Linked DNA regions of Homo sapiens: region 1 is linked to region 2. Evidence: fine-mapped QTL for protein levels in blood plasma. Region 2 holds a variant in brackets. A gene starts in the other region. All regions are shown on their reverse strands.

Region 1 (4,330 bases), not on the chromosome of region 2:
CCGGGGGCGCAGGGTCGGCCCGGCGCCAGTAGTACCTTGAGCTGCGGCTGCGCCCGGGTTCGGAGCGTCGGGGTCCGGGTGCGGTGGCGGGTCTGGGCGGCAGGTCCGGGCGTCGGGCCGGGTCGGGTGGGCTCTGGCGGCCTGGGGCGCTCACCGCATGGCGCGGCCGGCAGCAGGGGCAGAAGGCGCGGGCCGGGTCCCTCCACGTGTCCGCCGCCCGGTGTGGCCGCCGCCACCGCCGCCGCTGCTATATATGCGGCGCACCCGGGAGCCGCCCGGAGTCGCGTCACCGGCTCAGCGCCCGCCTCCTGCACCCTCGCCGAGCCCCGAGGGCGACGGGAGTGACCCGAGCTCGGGTCCTCTGGGCCATCATAGGCGGGTGCGGCGGAGAGCCCCCCCTCATCCCGCGGGAGAGACTCCCCCAAATCTGCAGAGAGAACCCCAAACCCTGTGGGAGAGACCCTAATCCCGAAAGACAGAGCCCAATCGCCCCGCGGGAGAGCCCCCAGACCCGTGGCCCAAGTCATCGCTGTGGCGTCAACCCCACTGCTCCCCCCGGGGTCCCAGCCCCAGAGCAAGCCTGACCCCCCACAACGTCCCACGCCTGCGGTCTCCCTGCAGCTTCTCCTCCCAGCCCCTACCGCTGCAAAAGCCAGCTGAGCTCCGCAGCACTGGAGACCCCAGAGGGTGACGGGCAGGGACGACTCCTCAGTCCGAGCCAGCCCCAGCTGGGAGGTCATGGGGTACCCGGGGAATGGCGGGCAACACTTGGCCCTGCGCCCTGGCCGGCTTGTGCTGGGGCTGGAGCGAAGGTTCAGGCCTCGGGAGCCGTCGATGGCGGGGAGGGCAGGCGTTCCCGGCTCCCTGTGCCCAGCGACCTCCCTCCTGTTTCACTAAAGGGGGGCTGTGGATCTCAGGGTCTGCTTGGCCATCCCATTGTGGGAGCTGCGGGACCGTCGAGCATCCACAGGCACCAGCTCAGAAGCTCGGCCTCTCAGTGCCTCCCCTGGCTGCCTGGTCCAGTTGTAAGAGGGAGCTTTAAGCAGGTCCAGCCATTGGGCAACTGGTTAGGTCCAGAGGGAGAGCAGCCCAGACTCCCAGAGGCCGCCAAGGGGTGGGCGGTGGGCAGAGCAGCAGCAAGAGGCTGTCCTTGTGCCCAAGGCAAAGACATCCCACAGGAACAAGGCCCTCCTTGGCTCCTCCACAAACCCTTCCTGAGCTGGGGCCAAGTCCCGAAACAACCCAGGAGAGAACCCAAGCCTAGGCTGTTCCTTCACCCCATTCCCAGGCATCAGGGGAGCACAGGATCCCAGGCATCACACTTGTACAGTGTGGCACCTCCGGGCTTCCGAAGAGCACGGGGTCATCTGCTGAAAACTCGCCTGACCTCCCCTCCCACTGGCCAGACACCACCCAAGTCCTCAACAGCAGCAGCTGGGTTAGGATCTCCCCACCCACTGGGCTCAATATCAGATGGGTTGATGTCACATCTGTGGGTTGATGTCCACAGGGCACAGGACGAATGATGATCATGACAGTGTCATCTTACCTGTCCTCTACACTTTAGTCTTGGGAACCTTTGCACAGACAGCTACAGGCTGCCCCCAGGAGAGATCCGTCTGCCTCCACGTGGCTGGGGAAGGACAACTGGGCTTTCAAGAACTCTGGCGAAGGCCAGCGGCTGCTGGAGAAGGTGCAGGGCTGCAGCCTGGTGGCTGAGTGTCTGCTGTGGTTTATGGGAGGAAGAGGAGGAGACAGGACTTGGGGAGGGGTCTTAGGAACAGACTCCTGGCACGACAGTGGTGAGGGGTGGGGTGTTCCCAAGGGCACAGTTTGACTTCTGGTCATCCCTATTTCTTGCAGCCTGGGGAGAGGAGAGTCAGGCACAGGGGACCCTAACTAGGACTCACAGGCTGATTTCGGAGCCCACAGTAAACCCTGAAGTGGTTTCCTGCCGGGAGTGGGGGCGTGGGAGACAGTGAGTCGCCATGAGAGTCTGGGCCAGCCGTGGGCAGAAGGACAGCCGAGAGGCGGAGGAGCAGAGGGCACGTTCCTGTGACTCTGCAGAGAAGTGACAATGATGTCCTCTCATGCCCCATGTCCTTGTGTCTAGATGACATCAGGGAGTGGGCAGGGGCTGGGCTCATGGGTGCCTCTTGGCTACCTGAGAAATACTGCAACCTTTGGCCCCCGGTGGTAGTGGGAGCCCTGCTACCATCCCAGAGCTCTTTCTTGCTTTCTGCTGAGAACAAATCCAGCCCAGTGCATAGCACATCTTAGTCAATTCCAGCCTTCTCCTTTCTTCCACGTTAGGCCCCCTTCCAAATCCTGCCAGAGCTTGACTACACTTATTTTCTCTATTTACTTTGTCACAGAGGCTCTTAGTCTGTTTAAAGGAGCACAAACTCTAAACCTAAATCCTTGAGATGGATTCGAAAAGAGACTCAAAGTCCATCCCTTAGTCATGGGCTGGAATTTGAGGTACATTAAACTTTCAGCTGTCTTCATTTGGGCCTATGTACTCTTTTTGTTTCCTTTTTTGCTTTCAAAGAAACTTCAGACTGGGCGCAGTGGCTCACGCTTGTAATCCCAGCATTTTGGGAGGCTGAGGTGAGTAGATAGATCACTTGAGCCCTGGAGTCCAAGACCAGCTGGGGCAACATAGCAAGGCCTCATCTCTACTAAAAATAAATAAATAAATATTTTTTAAAAATCAGCCAAGCATGATGGCACGTGCCTGTAGTCCCAGCTACTCAGCTCAGGAGGCTGAGGTGGGAGGATCACCTGAGCCCAGGAGGTTGAGGCTACAGTGAGCCACGATCAAGCCTGCACTCCAGCATAGGCAACAGAGCAAGTCTCTGTCAAGAAAGAAAGAAGGAGGGAGGGAGGGAGAGAGAGAGAGAGAGAGAGAGAAGGGAAGAAGAAGAAAGAAGAAGAAGAAGGAGGAGGACGAGGAGGAGAAGGAGAAGAAGAAAAGAGAAGGAAGGAAAGTGAGGAAAGAGAAAGGAAAAAAAGAAAAATAAATTTCAGGCCGGGTGCGGTGGCTCATGCCTGTAATCCCAGCACTTTGGGAGGCCAAGGCGGGTGGATCACAAGGTCAGGAGATCGAGACCATCCTGGCTAACATGGTGAAACCCCGTCTCTACCAAAAATACAAAAAATTAGCCGGGAGTGGTGGCAGGCGCCTGTGGTCCCAGCTATTTGGGAGGCTGAGGCAGGAGAATGGCGTGAACCCAGGAGGCGGAGCTTGCAGTGAGCCTAGATCGTGCCACTGCACTCCAGCCTGGGTGACAGAGCGAGACTCCGTCTCGAAAAACAAAAAACAAAAAACAAACGAAAAAGAAATTTCAGGGTAGGTTATCTGGTCAGAGCCTCCTTATTAAAAAGACATTAAGCAACTGGAAACAAATCTTCACATGTATTTTGAATTCATTTAAGAAAGCTCCATTGAATAATTAGACACATGTATTCAAAATAAACATGCCCATGCCTGATTCCTCCAGGTCCCTAAGTTCTTTTTCCACGTGGGATGACACCCACCGTCTTGCTTCCCGCTTAGTCTGGGTGAGTGGGTCTCGGTATAAACCCTGGCTGGGACCCTGGCCCGGAAGTGCGGTGACCATGGGAAGGCTACAGACAAGCAAGGCAGTGGCCTGAAGGCGTGCTGGGGTTTCCTGAGGTCGGCAGATTCCTTCAGACAAATGAGGCCAGCACACCTGGGATGACAGACACCTGCCTCCCGGCACAGACTGTGCTGGAACCACAGCCAGTGTGCTAATGGCTCTTTGCTCAGTAATGACCCAATGGCAGTCATTGTCAACCTGTCATCTTGAAGACAGCCCAGTGTGCAGCAGACAAAGTGGGTCACCATTAGAGTAATCGAAATCAAGCAGAAAGCCTGATGTCCCCCGCTGCCTTCGAGCCAGCCCATCTTCCTTAGAAGCGCTGTCCACCACCAGGAAAAACCACCCTGAAGCTGAGAACTCAAGCAAGGGTCAAGGGTCACCTGGGCCATGCCCACTGCACGGGAGCTCAACCGTCCATTGCCTGGCAGTGGAGCTGCAGTGGTGAAATCAGCAGCAGGGTCCCTGCCCTTGCGGAGTTAGACCCTCACGGAGACCCATTACAGTTGGCCCCTCTGTATCTGTGAGTTCCCTGGCTGTGGGTTCAACCCACTATGGACTGGGTCCTTGTAGGTAGGCCTAGGATGGGTTTCTCTGTACGAATACGTACAGACTTTTTTCCTTGTCATTATTTCCTAAACAATACGGTATAACAACTATTCATGTAGCATTTACATTATACTCAGTATTATAAGTAATCTAGAGAT
Region 2 (4,385 bases):
AAACACACAAACTTCAAGATAAATTGGATTAGGAAATTCTGTGTAATGTCACCATCTGGTTGCTCCTGCAAAATGTTACAACTGTCTCGATGCCAATAATCAACATTTTATTAATGCCTTAAAGCAAGAAAAGATCATTTTTTAAAGGACCTAAGAGAATTGTTTTGCAGTCTTTAATAGTCTCATGAAGGACAGCATATCAAAGTATCTTTGGGGATGCTTTGCTTCCAACACAGAAATCAACTGTAACTAAATTAAGAAAAAGAAAAACTTATTGAAAGGATACAGGCTCTCATAATCATAAAAGGAAAAGCTTGAAACACACACACACACACACACACACACACACACACGCAGATTTCGGAAAGGGCTAAGAACAGAGTAGCTTCAGGTACAAAGGTGTCAGAAACTATTTAATGAGTCACCTCAAATTGCCATTGTCATGAAGAACAATCTCCAGCTGTTTTCCGTCTTTTTGCGCCATATTGCTTAAGATTCCAATTGCAGGAGGAGAGTATCTACTTGGCCTAACTTGCGTCAGCTACTCAATCTTGCCCAAGGGAGGGCTGGGCCACCTTGATTGGCAGTACCCCCAGGACTGCTTCCAATGGAATCAAGTGTGTGGGAGAGAAGGAGGTAATTCCCAAAGCAACATCAAGGTTCTGCAACTTGAAGAATGAAAAATGAGCACAGGAAAATGAAGCAATAGAAACCTCCCACAGAAGCCCATGCTCAAAAGACTGGCAAACCAAATAAAACCTGAAGTCAAGACCCCATCTCCCATTCCTCTACTATCTTCCACTCTATGTGGAGACTTGTAAATAGCCTTAAAAAACACTCCATGGACAGTGCCTGGGGTGGAGGTGGTGGATAAAATATTTTAATGACAATTTAAAAGGAGAGAGCGTATTAATTTTCAACTTAATTGGACACTAACTCTCATCATCCAGAAGCAGGGTGAAAAAGAGAATAGAGGTTATGGTGAAGTGAAAGTGAACACAATGCAAGGCAAAGAAGAAAGAAATAAAGTCACTGTCAGAAAAAAAAACCATGATAATTATTACTTCCCTATGAAACTACACAGACTAGATGGACTCAGAATGGGTGTTTGCCTGTGTTAATGTCACTGCATTCTATGCCTTAAATGTACCTTCAAGGATCCCTAGGACAATCCCAATTTTTGTACCTTCTGGTCTGGGTCTCTTTGGCCTATTTCTATACTCTCTTCTTTGTATCTAACCTGGCTCTTTCCTCTTATAACTTATTTAATTTATTCTTGTGCTATTATTGGCAATGGTGGAGAATAACATGTCACAACCCTTCCTATAAATATCTTCTCATATGCTTGCAGTTCGTAAACCTATTCTCAATCCTGCTATGAACCAAGTAGTATGATTCAACAACCTTCTCCCACCAGTCCTATGTACTGAGCCTTTAACAAGGTTTTCTGAAAAGAGAGGTGTCAATTTCACTGTGTTCCCAGAAGTGACAGGGGTCTATTTTTTCTCCATTCAGAGTGGAAATAATAAAAAGAGGAAGAATCACAGTGAATTGATTTGGGGGTTGATCACCAACCCTTCCTTAAAAATGTGTACATGTGAATGTCCTTTCACACAAATGCAATCACAGAATTTCCCCGGAGCACATTAGACCTGGTGATATGTTAGACTCTCAGCATACCAGATTGGTGGGGAAAAGGCTAAAGTCATAACAAAAAGGAACCAGAGCAAGGCCAGGGACAGCTCCTACCCCAGTTAACCAGTTATGAAGCATAACAATATCCGGAAATAGTTATATGTGCTGGACCTTATGCCAAGTGTTATATATGAATGATCTCATCTAATTCTCTTACCCACTTTTGCTTTAGAGTTATTTTTCTTACCTACAGATGAAGAAACTAGGGTTCATAAGGTGAAGAAATGCATTCAGGATTACACTTG[T/C]AGGAAGTATCAGAGCCAGAATTGACACCAGGTCATCTGGTTCCAAGGCTTAGGCTGGAAATCACCATATTCTCAAGGGCCATGATACCCGATGTTGGAGCTGGAGAGGGAGTGCCCAGTCTGGTAGGCAGCTGCCTAGGGGATCTGGAGGAAGGTGGAAGACCAGGATCCCAGGAGGGTATGGGGGGTTCCAGTTAAGCCTGCCAGGGCTTGGGCCGGCCTCACATCTCAGCAGGAAACTATATGCCAAGCAGTATCAGAGCCTGACTGCCTTAGGCATGCCCATTGTAAAGACTGGAGACCTGTTACCTGCTGGGCCATTCAGGCAGAGTTTGTCAGCCAATAAGAGGCAAGCCTGGCAACACATCCACAGCTCCCAAACCCTAGGGCCCTGCTCAGTAACTGGCCCAGAGCCTAGATTAAAAAAAAAAAAATTACCAAAGAGTCCCTGAGCCTGCTGTGTACTTCCTACATGAGCTACAGCACCACTCACAACCAACACTACGTCCCAATCACTATGTCCAGCCAGGTTCCTGATGGGTCCTCCATTTCCTGCTGGACCAAAACCCTAAAAATATCCCCAGTGTCTTCCTACCCCTTTCTCTCTCCAGTGAGCTGAATCCTGGCCCTCAACCCGCAGTCATTTGTCAGTAATACTGGTTCATTCCAAATGCACCTTCCCTGGATTCAAAATAGTACTTTCCATTGATGCTGGCTGCCATGACCACTCAGAGATCTTACCACCCTTAGCCATCAAACCGGACCACTTGGCTACTGTTACCAGCCCAGATTAAACCCCATCTCACTCGGTGATTAAGGTGGCTGGCTACCTCCCCTGGGCAGGCCCTGAAAAGGTCACTCCCAATTCTATCAGTCCCAGTGACCCAGTCCAATATGACTCAGTTTACTCCCCCTCTCTACCAGTTTGTGGGTTTGGGAGTTTCCAAATGCCTGAAGGCCAAGCTCGAACATGTCCTCATAACATAGGAAACAAAGCAGTGTGCAGTTTTATTGGCTGGCTCTACATAGTATGGGGCAGCCTATCATGAGCAGCCACACAGGTTCACAGTAGTCACCTGCATGACTGGTCATCAGCAGACAGGCTAGCATGAGCTGCAGCAGAAGCCCATCTGACTCTCACTATCAGAGCTAAGGATCACAGGAACTAATATGCCTCACTCCCTGTTGCATACCCTCCCACTTCTCAGCATCTATACTGGATGTTTGCTTATTGAGGACCTGTCTCCCCTTGCCTCTGCCCCAGGTGATATGGTTTGGCTGTGTCCCCACCCAAATCTCACCTTGAATTGTAGCTCCCACTATTCCCATGTGTTGTGGGAGGGACCCAGTGGGAGGTAATTAAATCATGGGGACGGGTCTTTCCCATGCAATTCTTGTGATAGTGAGTAAGTTTCACGAGATCTGATGGTTTTATAAAGGGGAGTTTCCCTGCACAAGTTCTCTTCTCTTGCGTGCCGGCATGTGAGACTTGCCTTTCACCTTCCACCATGATTGTGAGACCTCCCCAGCCACGTGGAACTGTGAGTTCATTAAACCTCTTTCTTTTGTAAATAGTGCAGTCTCAGATGTGTCTTTTTCAGCAGCATGAAAATATACCAGGTTTCCCCTGAATATCCACTAGCTTTTCCCACTTTGAAGCTGCATCTCTTCTCTGCTCTTGTTTTTGGAAAATACTGTTATAAAAGCCTTTTTTGTGGCTGTCCCCATGGACCATCTCTGTGTGGGTGGCACTGCTCCATTCAGGCACCAGGCTGTTAAAGCTGATGGCTTCACTCATTCTGGGCAACACTGGACCACTCCAGGCAACCCTCACAATCTCAACCTGGCTGCTGCCCAGTAGCTCTCAGAAACTTGAATGAAAGAAGCTGTTATTCCAGAGGTCTATGATGATTTCTCTGGAGCCAGGGCTATCAATGGGCTGAAAATGGGCTTCAGGAGTCTATAAACAAGAGTCACCTGTACTAGTAAAATAATTTTTAGATGTGCATTTTTCTGAAAAGAGACTGCATAGCTGTCAGGATATTCTCTCTCTCACCTGCTCTTCCTAAGTCCTAGCAGTATTGTCCCCTGGGATATTTGGCCGCTGGCATTCCTCCACCATCATTCTGATCCAAACTCTGAGAACTGCTACCACAGCTTCCCAGTGGCCTTCTGGCCTATGTTCTTGCCTGCCCCCTACAATCAGACTCGGACACTACAGGAAGCAGGCAAATTAAAACACAAATTTGATTGGGAAGGCCTATTAACTTGAGTGTGTTCTTGTCTTCCACATCCATCCATCCACTGAAATATTTTGCTTTTGCTGCCTAATTTCCTCCCTTTTGCTCTGCCCTCTAATGCAGTTCTGCTTTTTCGGCCCAGTTCCCATGATTGTTGTGATACTGAATCAAGATGAATGTACGGAGAGGTGGTACAAAGAGATGT

Alleles and levels. Positions count from the first base shown, and alleles are read on the strand shown. Strength reflects both the effect of a copy and how common the allele is.
For the plasma level of the protein whose gene starts at base 224 in region 1, C is the low allele of the variant in region 2 and T is the other (weak association).

The links. PIP is the posterior inclusion probability: the model's chance that the variant is causal. Protein levels are from antibody-based Olink assays in UK Biobank. Linkage for the fine-mapping came from a reference panel and not from the study's own genotypes, which makes the PIPs less certain.
Region 1: it holds the start of GAL, and the variant in region 2 is fine-mapped to the plasma level of the GAL protein (UK Biobank, PIP above 0.99).

What each region holds. Positions count from the first base shown.
Region 1 is chr11:68,680,438-68,684,767 of GRCh38, reverse strand. It overlaps GAL (galanin and GMAP prepropeptide), which reads right to left and starts at 224. Exons shown (of 6, transcript NM_015973.5): 1 at 36-224. The region is part of intron 2 of LOC107984343 (a long non-coding RNA gene); the gene reads left to right. RefSeq lists enhancers at 1-153, 830-1,505.
Region 2 is chr2:224,057,960-224,062,344 of GRCh38, reverse strand. No RefSeq gene overlaps it. Among named protein-coding and RNA genes, the nearest start is that of SERPINE2, 21 kb to the right of the region's middle. The variant T/C (reference allele first, on the strand shown) is at 1,941.